Linked DNA regions of Homo sapiens: region 2 is linked to region 1. Evidence: fine-mapped expression QTL. A gene starts in region 1. The other region holds a variant in brackets. All regions are shown on one strand. Distances are between the middles of the regions. Region 1 holds the start of SNAP91 (synaptosome associated protein 91). Region 2 overlaps SNAP91 (synaptosome associated protein 91).

Region 1 (10,426 bases):
TCAAGCTTGACACAATACTGGGTAGGTACTGGGTGCCTATTACTACCTGATCTTTTTACTTTATTATTTGACTTGGGCTATCCCTTAGGGCATCACATACAAAATAGAAAAAACAGACAACACTGAAGTGTCAAACAGTTGTAACTAAAAAGGTAAATACTCATTGAGTCCTGGATGTTTTATATGCTAGCAAATAGGTACAAAAAGTTACAAGGGAAAGGAGGCGAGGATGTACAGGTGGACCCAGAAAAGTTAATGTCAAACCAATATTGGTTAGGTATTTAATTTTCACATACAAAGGGCAACATCACTATAGTCGAGTATGGAAAGAAAGTTTTACATAATCCAAAAGTGCCATAAAATATATAATCCTTACTTAGATTATTAGGTGCTGTCACTGAAAAAAGAAAAAAAATCTGGGAATAAATGTATATAGTTTCTTCATCTCGACCTTTTCACCAGATATAATTCTGCCCTCAGATGTTAACAAATCATTTCTTCAAGTGTATAAATCATATATCTTTAAGAATCATTTTATAAGTCACCATGACTAACAATAATAATTTTCTTGGCCTATCAACCTAAAGAGAAAAGAATTTATCATTTAAACCAGTACCTTAATATTAAATACATATTTCATAAGGATTTTGAGCCCAATTAATCCAATACCTTTAAAAAAAAATGACAGGACCATAAATCTGTTTTTATAATCTTCCAATCTAAACTCCAAACTAAAAAGTTATATACAAATCAAACTAGTAATAAATTGAAATTGTTTTTGTTTCAAACCCCCAAACTCTATATTTTGTGCTCTTTTTCTCCCAACCAGTATTTAATATTTTCAAAACTAAAACACCAACTACTTGAGAATCTTCAATGCCTATAAAGAAACTTAATTATGTGTTTGCATGTTTTAATAACAATTCACTTTTATAACTGGTGTTTACTGAAAACCTGTGAATAAATTACTGAGGTAGTTTACTGTTTCTTTAAAGGAACTTCACAAAGAATTCTGAGCAAAGATGTCCTCTTAATAATGCATATAACATATACATTCAGGTTTTCCATATCATCTTCTCTTAGAATAGTACATATTAGTAATGTGATAACTATGTCTCCAAATTCCATCCAAAAGTTGGTTTTAAGTAGAAGATGTTTTATTTTATGACTTATTAGAAAAGTAAAACATTAAAAAGAAAAACCACTAACCAATACTCCTCAGTGCTTGGTTTTTGGTCATTTTTTTATGCAACAGAATTAAAATATTTTCATTCAATTTTTTCATGATAGAATTAAAATTTTTTCATGCATATTATAAAGACTGCAATATGTACGCGGATTTTGATGCTCAATTCCACAGAAAGCTATGCAAGCAAGGTGGGTGTTTTAGAGATTAGACCATTTAGGTTAATATGGTTCATTTTCTCTCCTCTCTCAATAAAGTATATTACTAATCTACAGATGGCAGTTAAGTGTACTGGTTAAAAGCTATGAAAGTTTGGACAGGGGAAGTAGCAGCTCACTCCTGTAATCCCAGCACTTTGGGAGGCCAAGGTGGGCAGATAACCTGAGGGAAGGAGTTCAAGACCAGCCTGGCCAACATGAAGAAACCCCATCTCTACTAAAAAAAATACACAAAAATGAGCCAGGCGTGGTGGTGCATTCCTGTAAGTCCCAGCTACTCAGGAGGCTGAGGCAGGAGAATCACTCGAACCTGGGAGGCTGCAGTGGGCCGACAATGCACCACTGCACTCCAGCCTGGGTGACAGAGTGAGACTCCATCTCACAAAGAGAAAAAAAAAAAGCCATGAAAGTTAATTACCCTCCCTGAACCCATTAAGTGATGAAAGATTAATAATATAAAGTTCAGTTCGTGCTATATAGTAACTGCTCAATAAATGTTCAGCTCTTATGACCATTCATATTAATAATTCAACACCAGTTCCTATTTCAGCTGCTTTCTTTTATAACATGGAATCTTCCCCCTATTTTCCACATCTTAGAAATCATATTGGAAAACCTCCTACCTTCAAATTTTCAAAAGACTTTTCCACTAAAATACTAATGTGACTAAATATTTAGATCTGGAGAAGTCAGCCTTTATCTGAATGATGTTTTAATGAAATGTTCAAACCTGTGAATGTTCTCTGAAATATATCAGTATACTGATTTATCATTTTAATTATAGATCAGCATGTAGCAAATTCATAACCTATACCTTTCTTATTATGAGGATTTTCTAGACTGATATATACCTTTAAGACATGAATCATTCTTCCAGAGTTGGGGAAACTGATGGGAAAATGGCTAAATGATTCAGCATGCTGCAGCAAAGTGATCTGGTCACAAATTTACAATTTCTACTTCTCTTAGGTGCCCTGGCCCTGGTGGCCTCTTTCATCCTGTACTGCATATATAACATATAATGCTGTAATCAATAAATTTAGTTAAACATTCCCTTGGGAAAGGCATAATGGTACTTTCCCCTCCGATGAGCTTCTAGAAACAAAATTATTCAATTCTATGAGACAACAGGTTCACAAGGCTGGACAACTCTTACAATGTCCAGTTGTAAGCTTCATCAAGCTTCGCTTATGCAGATAATAGGGCTAGAGTGAATTCTGACACTGGTGCCATTTTCTTAGCTGCACAAAGGAAATAGCAGGAAAAAGACCCAAGACCAAAAAAACCCAGAAGATGGGCAAAGGAAGCCAGCTGAGGAAATGGCTGTGGCCATACCTGTGTCTCTCATGCCAACATTCACCTTTACCAAAAACATCACAATAGAACAGAAGATCCTAAGCAGGTCAAGAGAACTAAATAGCAACTGCTGAACATACACTCATATAGCCTGACTTATGAGAAACCTCACCACCCAAAGCAGGTGAAAGCCTTTTTCTTTTCTAAGTGCCTCTGTTTATCCTTCGGTGACAAAAGATTTACTGTTAATTAAGGTATTTCAGAAATATATAGATTCCAGAGTAGAATAAAGCCTTTTCCATCAAATAACCAGTTACAAAAATAATATTAAGAATTAAACGGTTTCATCTAAAATTGCACCATCTCAGATGCTGGGGAAGTACATCCATTTTGTGACCATAGCATAGTCATCTCACCCAGCATTTTCTGAGAATGGGACAAAGTGTGCCAGGATGTGTAAAATGAAATTGCCATAGCTATGAAGTCCAATTTCCTCATTCAGTACCTTGAATTTATTTCAGTTTGGTATGGTAACATACCTCACACACACACACACACACCCATACTCACAAAAACAATCCTCAGGAGCAACACTTAAAAAGATTATACTACCTTAGAACTATCTGAAATGTATTTAGGAAAGAACTAGGGTGACAAGTTTGACCTTCCATAAATTCATCTTTTTTTTTTTTGACTGTGCAACCTCTAATTTCCTCTAATTTGGAGAAGGGAGGGTGGGTGGAGAAAGAAAAAAAGGTGAAAAACATCTAATTCAGTGTGTACAATCTCTCTCTTGTGTGTGTGTATATACATATGCGTGTGTGTGTGTGTGTGTGTGTGTATTTTTCCCCCTCCACCAAGACCTTGGAGGTCAATAAGAGGAAAAAATGGCTCACAAGACAAGGTTTCATGGCTAACCCAAGGGAACACCTTCACAGCTGAAGAATTTCAGCTCAGGGGCAACCTGGCTGGGAGTATCAGAGGCCACAGCATTATGGACCAAGAGCGCAGGCCGCACCACCAGCATCCCAGGCGCCTCTGCCGTGCGCATGTCCCTCTTATATAAAGAGATGCTTACAGTCCAGGTGCTTTTTCTTGGGGCCCATTACTTCATGAGTAGTGGCTTTGCAGACCGCTCTTGCTACAGCAGAGCCTGTAACGCTGTACTGAGCGGCGGCGATCCGATCCGTGAGCGTTTGGCCCGACATCTTCTGTGGTCGCGTCTACCGCCTCCTCTTCTGCAGGAAACAAGGGGAGACGGTCCGGCTTTAATCCGCAGACCCTACCCTCCAAGCACCCAGGCCTTGCCTCCTCCAGCCGCGCGGCGGCTCTCTCCTCCTCCATCCCCACCCTGGCACCACCTCTCGGAGCCAGCAACGCGCCAAGCCCCGCTCCTGCGATGCGGTCCAGGGAGTCTTGGCCGTGAGTAGGGCCGTCACGGAACCCCAGCGTGGGCTCCAGTCGCAGCATCGTGACACCGTCCCCATTCTCCCCCGGCCCCCACATAGGGCCAGACTCACCCCCTGGGGACCCCCCTGTCAATCAGCACTTTCCCCGCAACCTGACCCGCGGGTGCTGGACTAGCCACAACGTGCGTTGGGGTTATTCCCTGGGCGCCGCACCCACCGGTGCCCATCTCCCACCTCAGCAGACTTTCCTCCTAGCAGCCCGCAGGCTTCGGGGAATGCATCGGATACCCAAGCCCTGGCTGCCTCCCTCCTCCTCCTCGCGCTGCTGCAGCAAAGGGCTCGTCCTCCCTCAGTCGCGAAGGAGATTATCCTAGCGTTGCGCCATGTTATGCCCTCGCCTCCCCTTCCTTCCTCGCCGCCGGCTCCAAAGCCTCGCCGAGGCCCATCGCCCGGGCCCCTTCCCCCCGGTTCCAAATCCCTGCCGCAGGGGCCGCCCGGGAGCTCTGCGGAGGCGCCGGAGTCTTGGGGCGCCTCACCCTTCCTGGCTTTGGAGAGGAGCCGGGCTGACAGCGAAGCCCAGTCCCCCGCCCGCCCTGGAGCGCTCCGCGGAGCTGTCACTCGGCCGCTGCCCTTCTCCGCACCCTGGGATTATCCTCTGCGGATCCCCGCGAGACCCTGGCGCGGGGAGGGGGCCGAGTACGGCCGCGGGTACTCACCCCGCCCCTGAGCGGCGCCGCCCGCCGCAGGATGAGCGGAGCCCGGGCCGCCGAGGGAAGCCGCGCCGGTGGATGTGTGCGACCGCGCGTAGCCCCGGTGCCCCCGGGCGCAAAGTCTCCAGCCCTGGCCGGGCCCCGCTCCTCAGCTCCGCGGTCCCGGCGCCCACCGCCCCTGGCCCCTGGCCCCAGAAGCCAGTACCCGCCCGCCGCCGCCTCTTCTGCCAGCGCCGCCGCGTCTCTCTAGCGCTCCGAGCTGCGTCCCCATCCCCGCCCCCACCTCAGCTGTGGCTCCTCCGACGAGTCAGGTGACGGCGGCGGACAAACCCGGACGAGCCCTCGGCGGAGCGCCTCGCGGCCCCCTCCCAGCTACTCACACACACCGCCCCCCGGGGCCGGGAGCTTAAAGGCGAGGGGGCGCCTCGCGCAAGCATCCCCGGCAAGCCGGCGGGGAGAAGAAGGAGGCGGGGAGGCCGACACCCACCCAGCCAGCGGCTCTCCGCTGGGCGCCGGGCCGCCCCTCCGCTGCTGGCGCCGCACCCGGCACGCACTGGGCTCGCGCACCACGCACACCTGCCCGCCGACTGCGGGGGGAGCCCTGGGCGTTGGGGGCGTTGGCCAAGACGGGCGAGTGGGCTTCTCGGGTTCTACTCTGTGAAGGCCAAGGCAAGGGCGTCGTCGCGCGCTGCCTGGCGGAGCCCAGCCCCTTCCCCACACTGTCGCTGACACGCCCGCCTGTCAAAGGCTCCGAGGCCCAGATGAGCAGGGCGATTTTAAATGTCAGATCCTGCCGGCCATCCGCGACCGTCACCTGTGCGTCTTCAGCTCCTCAGGCTCCTCCGCTTGTCTCAGTTACAACTGGGAGCCCGGGTGGGCAGGTAATTCTAGCCACTTTAGTCTTAAACGGATACTGAGGTCTGCTGAAGGGAGAATAATTAACACAGCCGTTAATCGAGTCCCAGATTACCTTCGACAGTAATCATTTGCGTGCATAAAGAAAACCCTTTGTACCCTTAAGAAGTAATTTCTGCCAATTAAATATAGTGTTGGAACGTCCGTCAATTGTATGTCAAGTGTATATTCGAATAGTAAGCAGGAATTTCTAAACAGGGATGTGGAGTTGGTTAATAGCTTCACGTGTTGACATTTTCAAAGGTTGTTATTTATGTTCACCTTTTTTTTTAATTCTCACAGTAGCATGAAGATCAAAACTATATTTGTGAGCTTTCCTGGCATTTTTTCTCCTTGCTTCGGGTGGCTTCTGCTCGGCCTTGAAGCCATATATCGATACCTATCGATCTCAACGTTTTGTTATATATTCCTCTCTTTCACCTGGTACAGTGTTCAGTATGCAGTCATGATTTCCTAACTACTGAGACTGATTCTAGGACTAATTGGAAGCTTAATGACTAAAGAGAGACAGCTTAAGAGCACTATTGTCTCAAGTACTAGTCTTACCATATTTACAAGGGAAATAAAAACGCAATTCTATTAAAAAAACTTGTACTCCAGTTTTATAGCAGCTTAATATAATGGCCCCAAACTGGAGGAAAGCCAAATGTTATTCTACTAGTAAATGAATAAACAAAATATGGTATATCCACATAATGGAATACTACTTAGCAATAACAAGAAACAAACTAATACCATTCATGAATCTCAAATTCATTAGACGAAGGGAAAGAAGCTCTATCAAAAATTCTACTTATTATTTTGATTTCATTTATGTAACATTCTGGAAAAGTCAAAACTATAGAAACAGAAAACACATCAGGTGCCGAGTCAGGTGACGGTGGCATTGGGGGAGGGGACTGCAAAGGGGCAGAAGGAAACTTTTTGGAGAGATGGAAATGTTTTATATCGTGACGGTGATGATGATTATACAGCTGCATGTATTTCTCAAAACTCATCAATTTGTACACTTAAAATTGGCGAATTTTGTTGTTTGTTAATTATACCTCAATATAATCTGATAGAGTTGGGAGTGGCAATATTAATATCAAAGTAGGTTTTACAATAAGGAATATTAATAGCAATAAACAGGCACATTTCATAATGAAAAATTCATTAAGAGCATGGAACAATTCTACTTGTTTGTATATCTAAGAACAGAGCTTCAAAGTAGGACGAAGCAAAACCTAATAGCATTAAAAGGAGAAACAGGCAAATCCACAATTATACTTCAGGATTTCAGCACTTTTCTCTATGTAATAAATAGGACAAGTAGACAGGAAACCTGTAAGGGTATAGATGACTTGAAATAGCCCTGTAGGCCGGACGCGGTTGGCTCATGCTTGTAATCCCAGCACTTTGGGAGGCCGAGCCAGGCAGATCATGAGGTTAGGAGATCAAGACCATCCTGGCTAACACGGTGAAACCCCGTCTCTACTAAAAATACAAAAAAAAAAAAAAATTAGCTGGGCGTGGTGGTGGGTGCCTGTAGCCCCAGCTACTCAGGAGGCTGAGGCAGGAGAATGGCGTGAACCCGGGAGGCGGAGCTTGCAGTGAGCGGACATCGCGCCACTGCACTTCAGCTGGGGTGACAGAGCAAGACTCTGTCTCACAAAAAAAAAAAAAAAGAAAGAAATAGTCCTGCAGACCAACTTCACCTAATTGACATTTATAAAATAGTCCACCCAACAGTAGTGGAATACTTTCTTAAAGTGTGCATGGAATATTCTCCAGGATTGACCATACTGACTGATCCTAAGCCATGAAGCTAGTCTCAATAAATTTAAAAGGATTATAATCATACACATTATGTTCTCTTACCACAGTGGAATTTAACTAAAAATCGGTGACAGATAGATATATGGAAATCTCTAAATATTTGGTAATTAAACAACACATTCCAAATAACCCATAGGTCTAATTTTCTCATAAGAAAATTGGAAATTTATTTGAACTAAATAATAATGAAAATCCAACATATCAAAATTTGTGGGTTGCAGGCAAAGTGGTGATTAGAGGCAAATTTATAGCATTAAAATGCTTAGGAATGAAGAAAGATCTAAAAATATTTATTTGAGTTTGAACCTTAAGACACTAGAAAAAGAATAAATTGAATTCAACATGAGCAGAAAGAAGGAAGTAATAAAGAGTACAAATCAATGAAAGAGAAAATGACAAATAATAGATAAAATCAATTAAACCAAAAGCCATTTTTTGGAAAAGATCACAAAATGGATAACCCCACTAGCCAGATTGAGCAAGGAAAAAATAAGATGGCAAAAATTTCCAATTTTAGGAGTGAAAGGAGAAATCAATTCTATGGACATTAAAAAATTAGAGAATGTTATAAACAACATTGTGCAATAAGTTGGACAATTTACATAAAATGAGGAAGTAGTATAAAATAATGGTTCTCCAACAGTCCAATAATGATGTAATGTCACATATGTTGCTATTAGTTAAGAGGTTTTGAGCAAATAACATGTTTCCAATAATAATTAAAATAATGCAATCTGTGAATGATTTATTTTTCAAAATAGATTGGAATGGATTCAAAGTCAATCCTATAATAGTGTGCAGTTACATACAATACACTGGGAAGTATTTGAAGCCAGAGCTTATTCTTGGTATGCTACCCATGTCTCTGGTACTATACATGGGAGAATATCCCACACATAAACATCCTGACATAGTGTTAGCAGAATGTTTGAAAATCCCTCAACTATAGAAGTATCATATTCTTATAATAAATAATCAATAAATAATGTCAAGGATGGAACCAATATATGAAATGTGGGTTGTTTTGGAAGATCTTAATGAGCGTTGAAAATAGTAGCATATTTTCAGTAGCAAAGATTTGGAGATGCTGGCTTCTTACAGCCAGGAAAATCTAGAGTTACATCCATGAATGTTATATACTAAAGTGAAAGAAAGAAAATAGACTAAAAGAAAGAAATATATTGAGATAAAAAATTACTTGTTGACATGTTCTCTTTGAAGGCACAGGAACGTAATAAATGATATTCAATAAATCTTAGGCAAGAATAAGAATTGACATTTAATATTTTACAAGTTGAAATATCTTTGATCTCAGTGGTCAGAAAATAGGGTAATTATAATAAACACCCCAAACTGCTTTTTAAAAATACATATTGAGGCTGGCGCGGTGGCTCATTCCTGTAATCCCATCACTTTAAGAGGTGGAGGACAGCAGATCACTTGAGGTCAGGAGTTTGAGACCAGGATGGCCAACATGGTGAAACCCCGCCTCTACTAAAAATACAAAAAATTAGCCGGGCATGGTGGTGTGTGCCTGTAGTCCCAGCTACTGGGGAAGCTGAGTCCCAAGAATCACTTCAAGAAGTTGCAGTGAGCTGAGATCATGCCACTGCACACCATCCTGAGACTCCGTCTCAAAAAAAAAAAAAAAAATTGAATTTATTTTCTGGGCCAATATACATAAATGCATATATGCTACTAAACAGATTTTTTGTAAGTCTCTGATTTATTTATTTATTTACTTTTTGTATAGACGGTCTCATTTTATTGCCCAGGCTGGTCTTGAACTCCTGGCCTTAAGTGATACTCCTGCCTTGACCTCCCAAAGCACTGGGATTACAGGTGTGAGCCACCATACCCAGCTAAGTCTCTGATGTAATACACATGTTTTCTTCTGAGTATCAGATTTAATACAGAAAAATCAAGCCAACAATAATTACACGTAGACCAACAATTTATTTCAGCACGAGGGCAAGTGTCTTCAAGTTCTTGATTTCAATTTATTTGTAAGATACAACACGTGTACAAGAAACAGAGAAAAATAAAGCTGAAGATAATTTGATTGGCTCAGATAACAACCTGAGGTGAAATTAGAAAATTTATACCTTTCTCCTAAATCTATAATATTCTCAAGGTAAAACTATAGGGTGAATTTCATTCCAGGAATGCTTTTCTGTCAAAGTAGAAAAAAACACATTGGTACAAGAATAACCACCCTGATTCTTATTCAATGAATCTTGTATGAAAGACTTAACTTTATACCTCTCAGAGGTTTCTGTGGATTCGTCACAAAGGTTTACTTTTGTGTGTCACTGTGGTAGTTAGTCCCCCAATAAATCTCCTCCCTTTGCATCTGAGCTGTCTCTGTAACTTGCTTTTGATCAATAAAATACAACAGACTGATGCTTGGCAGTTAGGTCATAAGAAACCTTATAGCCTCCACCTATGTTTCTTAGAACATTCCAACTTGGGATGTTCCCTCTTGGAAGCCAGCCACCGTGTAAGAAATGTGTTTACCCTGAACCACTCTACATGAGTAGCCCAAACACACAGAGATGCCCTGCGTAGGTGCTCTGGTCAAAACCCCAGCCCAACTCTCATTTAAACAGCCAGTTTCATCTGCCAGATGTCAAAGTGCATAAGCCATCTCAGGTAGCCCAGAGGAGAATTCCAATGACTACAGACCAGCTGTCACCTGACTGCAACTACATAAAAGACTTCAAAGGAGAACTACCCAGCAGAGTCCTATTCACTCACAAAATTGTGAGAAAGAATAAAAATTTGCTGTTGTATGCCACAAAGTTTGTTATACAGCAATAGACAATAGATTTAAAACTGGGAAGCAAATGAAAATAACATACTTAAATTGTTTTT
Region 2 (10,426 bases), 96 kb before region 1:
AAAAACTTCAACATTACTAGGATTAGATTTCCTTTGGTGAAATCATTTGGGTACAGCACATAAAAATAAAACCAAACTCTAATAAAATATTAATAAACAGTTAACTGCATATTTATTTACCAACCTGACTGGGACAGCCGCAGATGCAGTTGCAAATAAATCAACCGGTGGGGATGTGTCAATAGTTTTAGCTGGTGTAGAATTAGGAGACGTAACAGTTGTGGCTGGAGAAGACTGAAAGTGAAGATGCACAACACACTTGAGTCAAATATGAATCTACAGGACACAGGGCAGCAGGACTTTTCTTTGTATAACCATGACATGCCCAGCAATTTTTTTTTTGTAATTCTTTGTGGAGGAAAAAAAAACTCAATAAAATTTGAAATCAAGGATTGTAATAAATAATCAATATTGGCTAAAACATGTTACAAATTTTAAATGTAATTTATATAAAATGATAAAATATTTGGCTTAACATTGCAATGACTTCCATTCATTAATTAAAATAAAAGCTAAATGTATTTCCTGAACATAAAATTATTAGGAAAGATCTTACTAGCTGCAAAAAATTTCAAAAATTATCAATTGTAATAATTGCTAAAAAAACCAATGTCATTATTTTTTCTTGTCATCCTAAAAAGATTTCATGTGAGGTCCTCTCAGATGACCTTCAAATCCAGAAATCTAACTTGCAAAATAGTTCACAGTTGGAAGAGAACGATTCACAAGCAAGATTCAAGTCACTGATGTTTTGAAGATATCATGACTATAGCCCATCACTAAGATGACATAGATAAAACTAAAAAGGTAAAAATAAAATCTAGTATTTATTTTTCAAGAAGAGGTATTAATAGTCAATTAATATATTACAAGATTTTTATTTAGTTACTGTAACTAAACAATTTTGTCTGGTATATTTAATTCTCCATTCATTCACAAGAGAAAGATTAATGGAACATTTCAAAACAATGTATTGATACTTAGTTCTGTTAGTGGAGATGAGACATAACAGCAGGAAGATTCATGAAGACCAAGACCAAGCCAGGGCTATCAGATACTCCCCTAACTGGGCATCTGACTTCAAAGAGACCAAACATAAAGGAAGTTTTAAAAAGAATAATTTGAGGAAAAAAAAAACTGAGGAGATCAGAAATTTACAGAAATTTACAGACTTAAATATTATGTTTGTCCAAGAATATACTAATCCAAAAGTCAAAATTCAATAGTTATGCAAGTGCCAAGCATTTAGCACTTCAAGAAAGGTGGACACATGAGCAGTGTGGATGTTGTTAATCAGAAAATATCAACTCAGAACTCTCTCTTCAACAAAAATTCAAATCTTCCAAATGGAATACAAAACATGATCAATGGAAGAGAAAGGACTAGTTAAAGCTAATTGTATGTCATCCATTGGGAACACTGAGAAATCCTCTAAGAAAAGGTTTTTAAAAGCCAATGCATGTAAATAAGTTTAGAAAAAATGATATTGATGAAACACTGAGAACTTATTGACAGCAATAAATATTATCAACATAAATGCAAAAAATGAAACTCTACAGAAGCCCATTAAAAAATGCCTTGTAACAACAAGCTCTGAGGAGATGTAAGAGCTAGGAAAACAGAACCCAAATAATCTGTTATTACAAAAAGAAAAAGTCAGTAAAATTCAATTTGGCCGAAAAAGAAAAAAAAAAATTCAATTTGGCCAAAATGTAGAAACAGACCAACCCAAAGGATGCCACAATTTTACGACACTCTACTCAGCAGTCATATATTGGAGTTTTTCACATAGACATAATGGTTTTAAACCTGGCCTTATATCAGAATAAATGGAGCTTTTCACTTGTTTGTTTTATCTGACTGATTGTTCAAGGTCCCTGAGGGGATCTTAGGCAGCCAGCCAACCCATCACTGGCATAGTACATGGTGTCTGGAAATCACCAGTGCAGCCATAATGATATCCTTGAATATCTGTAATGACAGCAATTATATAATGGAAATTTGTCAAAGAGGAAAAAACACATCTATTACATTTTTGTCTGAAGAATACAATGGTAAATGTGAACTACAGACCTATAGAAGTAAATACTCTTGTCACTAATAACCCTAATCCTGTCCTTTCACATGGTAAAAAAGAGACAAGGAGGTAAACGAGTTATTAAAGTTATTATAGTCAACTGTCTAAAAGGCATATTTGTGGAAAGACACCCAATTACAATGGATTTCTCTACCTTTGAAACATGCACAATATCACATTACCTACCTCATACGACTCTGATTTAGAATATGTAAAAATGTTTTACAACTATTAAAACATTCTACTGATAACATTTGTTTTCTGTTGCAATATAAATACGTGAAAATCTCTCCAACTTTAAAAATATTTAGTCCAAACAAAGGACTAAATTACATATACTATACTACATTGGACTTAGAAACAAATACAAAGGAGGATACATAAAAACATAACTTACCTTTCCTCAAACAATTTAAATTAGAATTACCATATGACCCAGCAATTCCACTTCTGGGTATATACCCCCAAAGAATCAAAACCAGGGACTTAAATAGATATTTGTACACCCATGTTCACAGAAGCATTATTCATAAACCCAAATGATACAAGCAACCAAATATCTACTGATGGATGAATGCATGAATAAAGTGTGGTATATACATATAATGGAATATAATTCGGCCTTCAAAAGGGAGGAAATTCAGGCACATGGTACAACATGGCTGAACCTTGAAGATATGCTAAGTGAAATAAACCAGTCACTAAAAGACAGATTCTATATGCGCTCACATATATGAGGTTCCTAGGGTAATCAAATTCATAGAGACAGAAAGTAGAATGGTGGTTGCCAGGGGATCGGGGAGAGAGGGAGGTGGGGAGTTATTGTTTAATGGTATAGTTACAGTTTTGAAAGATAAAAAAAAAAGTTCCGGAAATGGATAGAGAGGATGGTTGTACAACAATGTTAAGGTATATAATGCCACTGAACTGTACACTTTATGATGGTAAAATGGTAAAAAACAAAAAACAAAAACCCCCAAACAAAAAACCAAACTTACCTTACTTAATGGAGAGGGAGCACCAGATCTAAAAGGCAACATAAAAAAAAATTAAAACTGAATATATATATATATATATATATATATATATATATATAAATATATATGTGAATATATTTGTAGAAGCATTTAAGTTGGATTTCACTTGGTCAAGCACTAACTTGTTTTATATACAGACTTTTAAAATAATGGACAGGCTATTTTTAAAAAACTTTTAATCTTTTACTTAATAATGACACCCCCTTCCACTGTTTTCCATCTACTTAATTTCCAGTACTAGAAATACTTAAATTCAACATTATTTTCCATATCTCTCGCAACTCAAATTCTTTGAGTCAAACATTATTGCCTATGTCCATAAAAAACAAACTGTCTAAATGGGAATTTAAAACCATTTTCAGAAGGCTTGGAAAAAACCATGCTTTGCAGAATTATGACAAACCCCAACACCCAGTGGTTTAAATCACTTAGGTTAAAGTACACTGTGAAGATCCCTACAGGCCCTGTGCTGAAATATGTCTCGGCTTCCATATTCATACTCTTGAAGTCTGTTTTCCCCCCCCATGGCTGTAATAAAAACTCTAGCAAGAATATTCTAGGAAAAATATTCCCATCATCCTGTTATAATTAGTGGGAGCTAGGAAAAAAACAGCAACTTCGATGCTTTTTTCTAAGAAAATGAGGGAAAATTAGGAAGGCGTGAATTTTAAGTTATATTACTGGTAGCATTGACTATTGCAGATCACTTCTAGGAAAGTGCTTCAGAAATAACTGCCAGAACAGCTCACATTTTACTAACTTCAGTTAGTGAAAAATGAATAACAAAACAAGATGAAGACTAAATACATTTCAATAAGCAGCCTATATTCACCGCCTTACTGCATGGCAGGGATGACTTTTTACTCATCTACAGAGAAAATATCACACACATAGCAGCAGCAAAACAAAATTACAGCAGAAATTTAGTAAGTAGAATTTTGTACAATATTATGAATTTTTGTCTTATTGGATATAGCAAATTTAACAGTATTATATGCCAAGTTAATATCTTTCTTTTTTTTTTTTGAGACGGAGTCTCACTCTGTCACCCAGGCTGGAGTGCAGTGGCGCAATCTCAGCTCACTGCAAGCTCCGCCTCCCGGGTTCACGCCATTCTCCTGCCTCAGTCTCCCAAGTAGCTGGGACTACAGGCGCCTGCCACCACGCCCGGCTAATTTTTTTTTTTTTTTTTTTTTTTTTTTTTTTGGATTTTTAGTAGAGACGGGGTTTCACTGTCTTAGCCAGGATGGTCTCGATCTCCTGACCTCATGATCCGCCTGCCTCGGCCTCCCAAAGTGCTGGAATTACAGGCATGAGCCACCGCGCCAGGCCCAAGTTAATATCTTTTAAGTTCAACTTCATTTGCAAATACATGCCTGCCATTTCCTGTTTGAATTTAATTTCTACTTAAAATGAATATAAACAACAGGTAGCAAGGGCACAGAGATTTCTGCTATATAACAAGCATAAGGGTAACAACTTGGTTACATGTAGTTTGGCTAAATGTTATCTTAAGAGTAATATAGTCTATGAGGGAAAGGATATACCTTTATCTATACTGTCCGTGTCAAAGGGTCTACTGAAATATCTACAGTAAATTCCTTAAGAACCTAAAAATCTAGTACAGCATACGGTGGGAAATGTCCTAGTGAGTTTTGGCTAATAATTTCTCCACT[T/C]CCACTATTTTTTCCCTTTACGTATGGAAAAGGAAGGGAGTTAAATCTAAATAAAAATTCAAGAAAATAGTAGCATGAATTCTACAAAGAAAACATAGAAGCCTTTGGTATGGTCACTTTCTAAGAATGAATTAATTTAAATTAATTTGTTTCTCTCTCAAGCAATTTTCATAAACCAATTCTTAGTGGTATTGATACAATTATAAATACTAATAAAGAAAAGAGAAGAGGCCAGGTGCGGTGGCTCACGCCTGTAATCCCAGCACTTTGGGAGGTAAAGGCAGGCAGATCACTTGAGGTCAGGAGTTCGACACCAGCCTGGCCAATATGGCGAAACCCTGTCTCTACTAAAAATACAAAAAAATAAAAAATAAAAATTAGCTGGGTGTGGTGGCACGCGCCTGTAATCCCAGCTACTCAGGAGGCTGAGGCAGGAGAATCGCTTGAACCTGGTGGGTGGAGGTTGCAGCGAGCCGAGATCGCACCACCGCACTCCCTCCAGTCTAGGAGACAGAGCGAGACTCAGTCTCAAAAAAAAAAAAAAAAAATATCAACAGCTTTAGAAATACATTTCCAAACTAATACCTAAAATATTATAACTTCTTCTATAACATCTTCTACCCCACAGCAAGAATGAAGATATAATAAAAATGATAGAATTGTTCTACCTGCTATAAAAAAGAGTATCATACTTAAGTATGAAAAATCATAATTGGTACAAGAATCATTTTGCCAAGCTTCCACATAAACAATATTAGTAAATGATACTTGCAGTTATCCCATGAATTATGCAAACAAACAAAACCCTCCTACTGTCTCTGTTGAGATATCCCACTTACCACATTACATCTTAGTTGCCTGTTTAATTCTCTATCTTCTTCACTAGATACTAAGTTTTTTGAAAGGAAGGAACTCATCCCATTGTTTTATATCCCTAGCACTTTACATATCATCTGACATTTTCTGTATTATTTGAATTTTTATATTAGAATATGTTCAGGTATTCATTCTATAATCAATAAATTAACCAGACGTCTTTAAAAAGTTATTTTCTGTGAAACAAAACTGTCAGGATGCGTGACCTCTGTTTTCTAACCAGAGTTGGCTTCTGCCATGATTTAATTAAAAGGTTGAGAACCAGAGGTGCTCCAATGGGGCCATAGCTTTCAAAAGCACCATTAATCACTGATTAAACTCTGAAGGTTCCCAGGCTCGGAGAGGTTAATAACTTTCCCATGTCTCATCATGCTTTAACGGTGGATTCCAGACTCTAGTCCAAGTCTATATGCCCCTCAGAGCCTATGCTCAGTCCACATTCCAACCCCCAAAACACAGATAAACTTGGCACATTTGCTTCTCTCTTACACAACATATAAATTGCTCTTCTTATGTGTTTCTCACTTGATTTTCCACCCTAATGTTAGTCATTGCCCTTTAGGAAAGAAGATACTACATCATTTACATATAGACAATATTTGTTAAAAAGACCAATACTTCTATTAATAATTTCACCTAGAAAAATCTAGTAGATAATGAACCATGTTGGAAAAACAAGGCATTAAGGTAATTTTAGAAGAAAATGAATGACCCATATAAGTAATCTACTCTAAATTCTGTAAAATTACTACAAACTCATGGGTTTCACTATGAACACAGCAAATGTCCATATTTCTTTCCAAGATGTTAACAGGAAGCTGTCAAATAGAATATTTTGTTAAGTTTTATATGAGTCATAACAATAATCCCTACATAATTTTGAGTATAAGTGCTAGCCAGAAAAAAATACAGATGTGAAAGATCTATCTACATCCTTCAAATAACTTGAATTACAAAAGATTTATCTTAAATTTCCTGTAACCTCAACACTTAGTAAACCCACATAAATAATAAAATAAATTTCTCTCTTTTGTCCTGTGGAATTATAGAAACAGACAATATATAAAGGTATATCACAGAGTATTGCATAAAATTACAGAAATAAACAGCAGTGGACACAAGGTACTAAATATAAAGGGCATACATATTCTTCATAGCAGACATTTGCAAATGCTTCAATTTATGTATATACTTGGTTTGGAGGTTAGAATAGTTTTATACTGTGACCAGAAGACAAATAAAACAATTTTAAGTAATTAATTTTCTTTATAAATTTGTCTTTTCGCATTTATGCTATAAGCCATGGGGAAGTCTTTTGTTTACTAAACAAATAAAAAATATTTCATTTCTAAAATCTGAGGAATATATTAATATAAATACATATATACATCTAAGAGAGACTGTTAGTCTATATCCAAGAAGACCGAAAGAAAGTAAAACCATTTATGCTAGTCAACTTGGGAGACAAAAATAAAGCATAATGAAAAAACACAGATGTGTAAAAGGGACAGAAATCAGTTTTAAATCTTCTAAATACCAAATGTGGAATCTTAAGAGTGTTTTTTGCATTTTTAGTAATTACCAAATGCAAAAAACTCACTCCATACAGTACTCACCCTTCACTTAAGTTCCAAGGTAAGCACAAACATACAAAGAAGAGAATAGTTAACTATTATAGTTCATTTATTTTAAAAAATAGGGAATAAGCAAAAGACAAGTTCAAATGTGGTTTTAGCCAATTCAGAAGAGAAATATGACAAGCATAAAATGATTTTAAAGGAAAAAGAAAAATTATTCTAAGAAAAAAGTAATTTGAAATGGAGGACTATTGAATTTTAAATTTCACTTCTCTAGAAATGTAACTAAATGTCCATAGCTATTTTTTTTTCCAAAAATAGCTTGTGGTGACCACAAGGGGGCGAATTTAGATTTGAAGTCAGGGCTAATGAGACCCATTCTAGCTACCCAAGGAGGCTTCTCTGTGACTGCAGCACTGATAGATTTAACAAAAAACAAGGGAAGGGTGTGGCCCTATATGGGGTTTGGGGGACCCTGAGTGGAAGAGTGCAGAGAAGCTGACTTACAGTGTGCATCCAGCACTGCACAAGACAGAGATTTTAACTTTAGCGGATGTACATATTTCCTTAGCTAAAGAGGTCCTTCTGTCACAGGAACAGAAACATTTCTCAGCTTCCTGTCTCCATTTGCTTAAATCCTAGGCAACTCATTTGGCTTCCCAGATACCCTAATAGAGGGTGGGCCTAGAAATAACTGAACTAGGGCATCTCTTATTGTGATCTAATGTACTCTCATGTCAAGTCTGATCATCCCCGGCCACGCTGAGATTGGAGGCAGAGCCTGGACTGTGGAAACAACCTTGAAAGAGCCCCTGAGAGCTCCTACTATCCATCATTCCAAATAGCTCTGCCATAATTGTCTGTAATACTCTTATACTGTTGCTTATCACTGCAAATTTAAAACACGCAATAATTTCTACACTAACTTGAAAAAATATTATAGAAATAACACAGCTAATGAAATAACCAGAAAAAAAAAGTAACATCAAGACACAAGCCTAGATTCTGGGAGAATGTCCAGAGGCAACAAAGTCAGAAAATAGTTGCATTTTGATAGCTCTGTCATAGGTAAAATCTGTGATCAGCCTACAGCCCTGAAATGATCATTTTACGGGTTGTCTCTACTAACTCCTGCTGTCAACCAAAATGGAATAAACAGAAAGCTGGTATCATCAACAGAGACAGATTCCAAGCTCTCCCTGTAGAGGACATACATTAAGTGTTTAAATGGACATAATGAAGTATAAAATAGTCCCTAACCTTTAGATTCAGAAAATCTACTTAAATCATACATGTAAAAAAAGAAATAGCCACAATACTGAGCAGTTCAAGATAAAGAAAGGCTTCATGAGAAGGTAGGACTAGAGATGGCCTTCCCAGGATGCATAAGATTTACAAAGCAGGACAAGGAGGATGGGCATCCTAAGACTTGCAGAATTATAGTCTGAAAAAGGCACAAAGATTGGAAAACACCAGGCCTTGTGAATAGACAAGTTTCAGACCTGCTGGAGAGATGGAAAAAGAAAAAAAAAGGAACCTGGACATTTCGTGCATGTAGTGAGGAAAAATAGTCAAAAATATAAGTACTCAAACACAGAGGTATGAAAATCTAGTAAAACTGTACTTATCATTGCTTGATTGCTATTCTCTATATAAAAGGATCTATGAATAAAATGTCAGTAGTATGCCATGCCTAATAGTTCAAGTAGGGAGATACTGGAGTCCAAAAAACTATACTTGAGGGCTTTTCTTTTTTCACAGTGGGGTTGATAACGATAATAGAGTGCTCAAGGCTGCTTGTGAAATTGTGCTTGTTTTCACTCATGTCCAATGATAACAGCTTTGATTTTTAAACAGGAGTAACTATTTTTCCATATATTGTGAATTCCTTCTAAAGGCAAATGTTCAAATCATTAGGTTCAGTTAATGTAGGTACAATCTACTAATTTGCTGCATTAGCCTGCAGAGAGATTGTCTATACCCACTGTCATAAGTTAATAGGAAGAGTAGGGGTTCTGAGGGAGCCCAGAAAATTATAACAAAGCATACCCTAAAACTAGAGCAATATAAGTTGTACCATGATAAATCTCATTCTTAGAAGAACGACTGTAGTATTTTTCATCTTATTTAGAATATACAACTAATGCGTACTTGTTTCCAGGTTTCTTTCCTTCTAATGTATTTAGATGCTGTTCAAGCGTCTCCATAAGACTGCTGGGAGCCTACAATAAGAAAGTAAAAATAAATGTCTGCATTGTTTACTTTCAATGTAAACACACTGTAATGTCACTGTAACTGTATGGTGGAAGTCTGTGGATGGACCCCGATATATATGTGAGATAATTTAATTGCAGGTTCTTTTAGTATTTAAATATTTAAATTCCATAGACTTTCAGACAGACCCATCTTAAATAGACTTAACTCCACTGCATAACAAATAGCATTACAGTGTGGTTTCAGTGTAGAGATTACATTGGATAGACTTTTACTAATACATTACTTATATGCAGTAAACTCAAATCAAGTTCACCACCTCCTTCTCATAAGACCATAGTAAAAATGAATAAGTGTTTGTATTCAAGTCAAAAATATGAGTGCCCAAATACAAATTTACAGAAATTTGAAAATACAGTAAAATCTCACTTATCTATGTTTGTCTGAAATATTAGGAAAAACCATTTAAATATATTTTAAAAAGGTGGTGAGTGAGAGTTGTGGGGAAAAGAATATAATTCTAATAATCAATAACAATTAAGATTTTATTATTGACCTATTTATATATAAAAATATATTTATATGTATAATAAAGTAACTTTTAGCAAATATAATATCAGAGCACTGTGTATTGGCAAATTTAATAAGTTTCAACTCTTATTAAGAAATACTTGAATGTTTCCTTTTATAAATAATATTTTAGGCAATATAAAGTGATGACATTTCACTGTATACTTAAGGAGAAATAATAGGTTCACGCAAATTTTTCACCCAATCTATTCCTTAAGCATTAGAGATTTCATTTCATCTTTCTCAAATAGTTGTAATACAAATTAGACCTTAACAGCAGCATAGGCATTCAAAGAATAGCATTTCTTAAATGAAATATATAACTACCCTTATAGGTATATTTAATTCTGACAATTCTTCTTTAAATTAATGTGAAATTAATTTTGAAGGACATTGAAG

Evidence for each region. PIP is the estimated chance that this variant, and not a neighbour inherited with it, causes the effect.
Region 2: its variant is the best candidate, but not a certain one, in a credible set for the expression of SNAP91 in spinal cord (GTEx, PIP 0.52).

Annotation. Positions count from the first base shown.
Region 1 is chr6:83,704,020-83,714,445 of GRCh38, forward strand. SNAP91 (synaptosome associated protein 91) reads right to left here and starts at 5,082. Exons shown (of 30, transcript NM_001242792.2): 1 at 4,826-5,082; 2 at 3,779-3,938. The coding sequence starts at 3,908. It overlaps LOC105377879 (a long non-coding RNA gene), which reads left to right and starts at 5,423. Exons shown (of 3, transcript NR_136251.1): 1 at 5,423-5,700. RefSeq lists silencers at 4,051-4,345, 4,755-4,964, 5,295-5,354.
Region 2 is chr6:83,607,575-83,618,000 of GRCh38, forward strand. SNAP91 (synaptosome associated protein 91) reads right to left here. Exons shown (of 30, transcript NM_001242792.2): 10 at 9,395-9,465; 11 at 7,283-7,288; 12 at 3,076-3,103; 13 at 125-234. Among named protein-coding and RNA genes, the nearest start is that of SNAP91, 96 kb to the right of the region's middle. The variant T/C (reference allele first, on the strand shown) is at 4,791.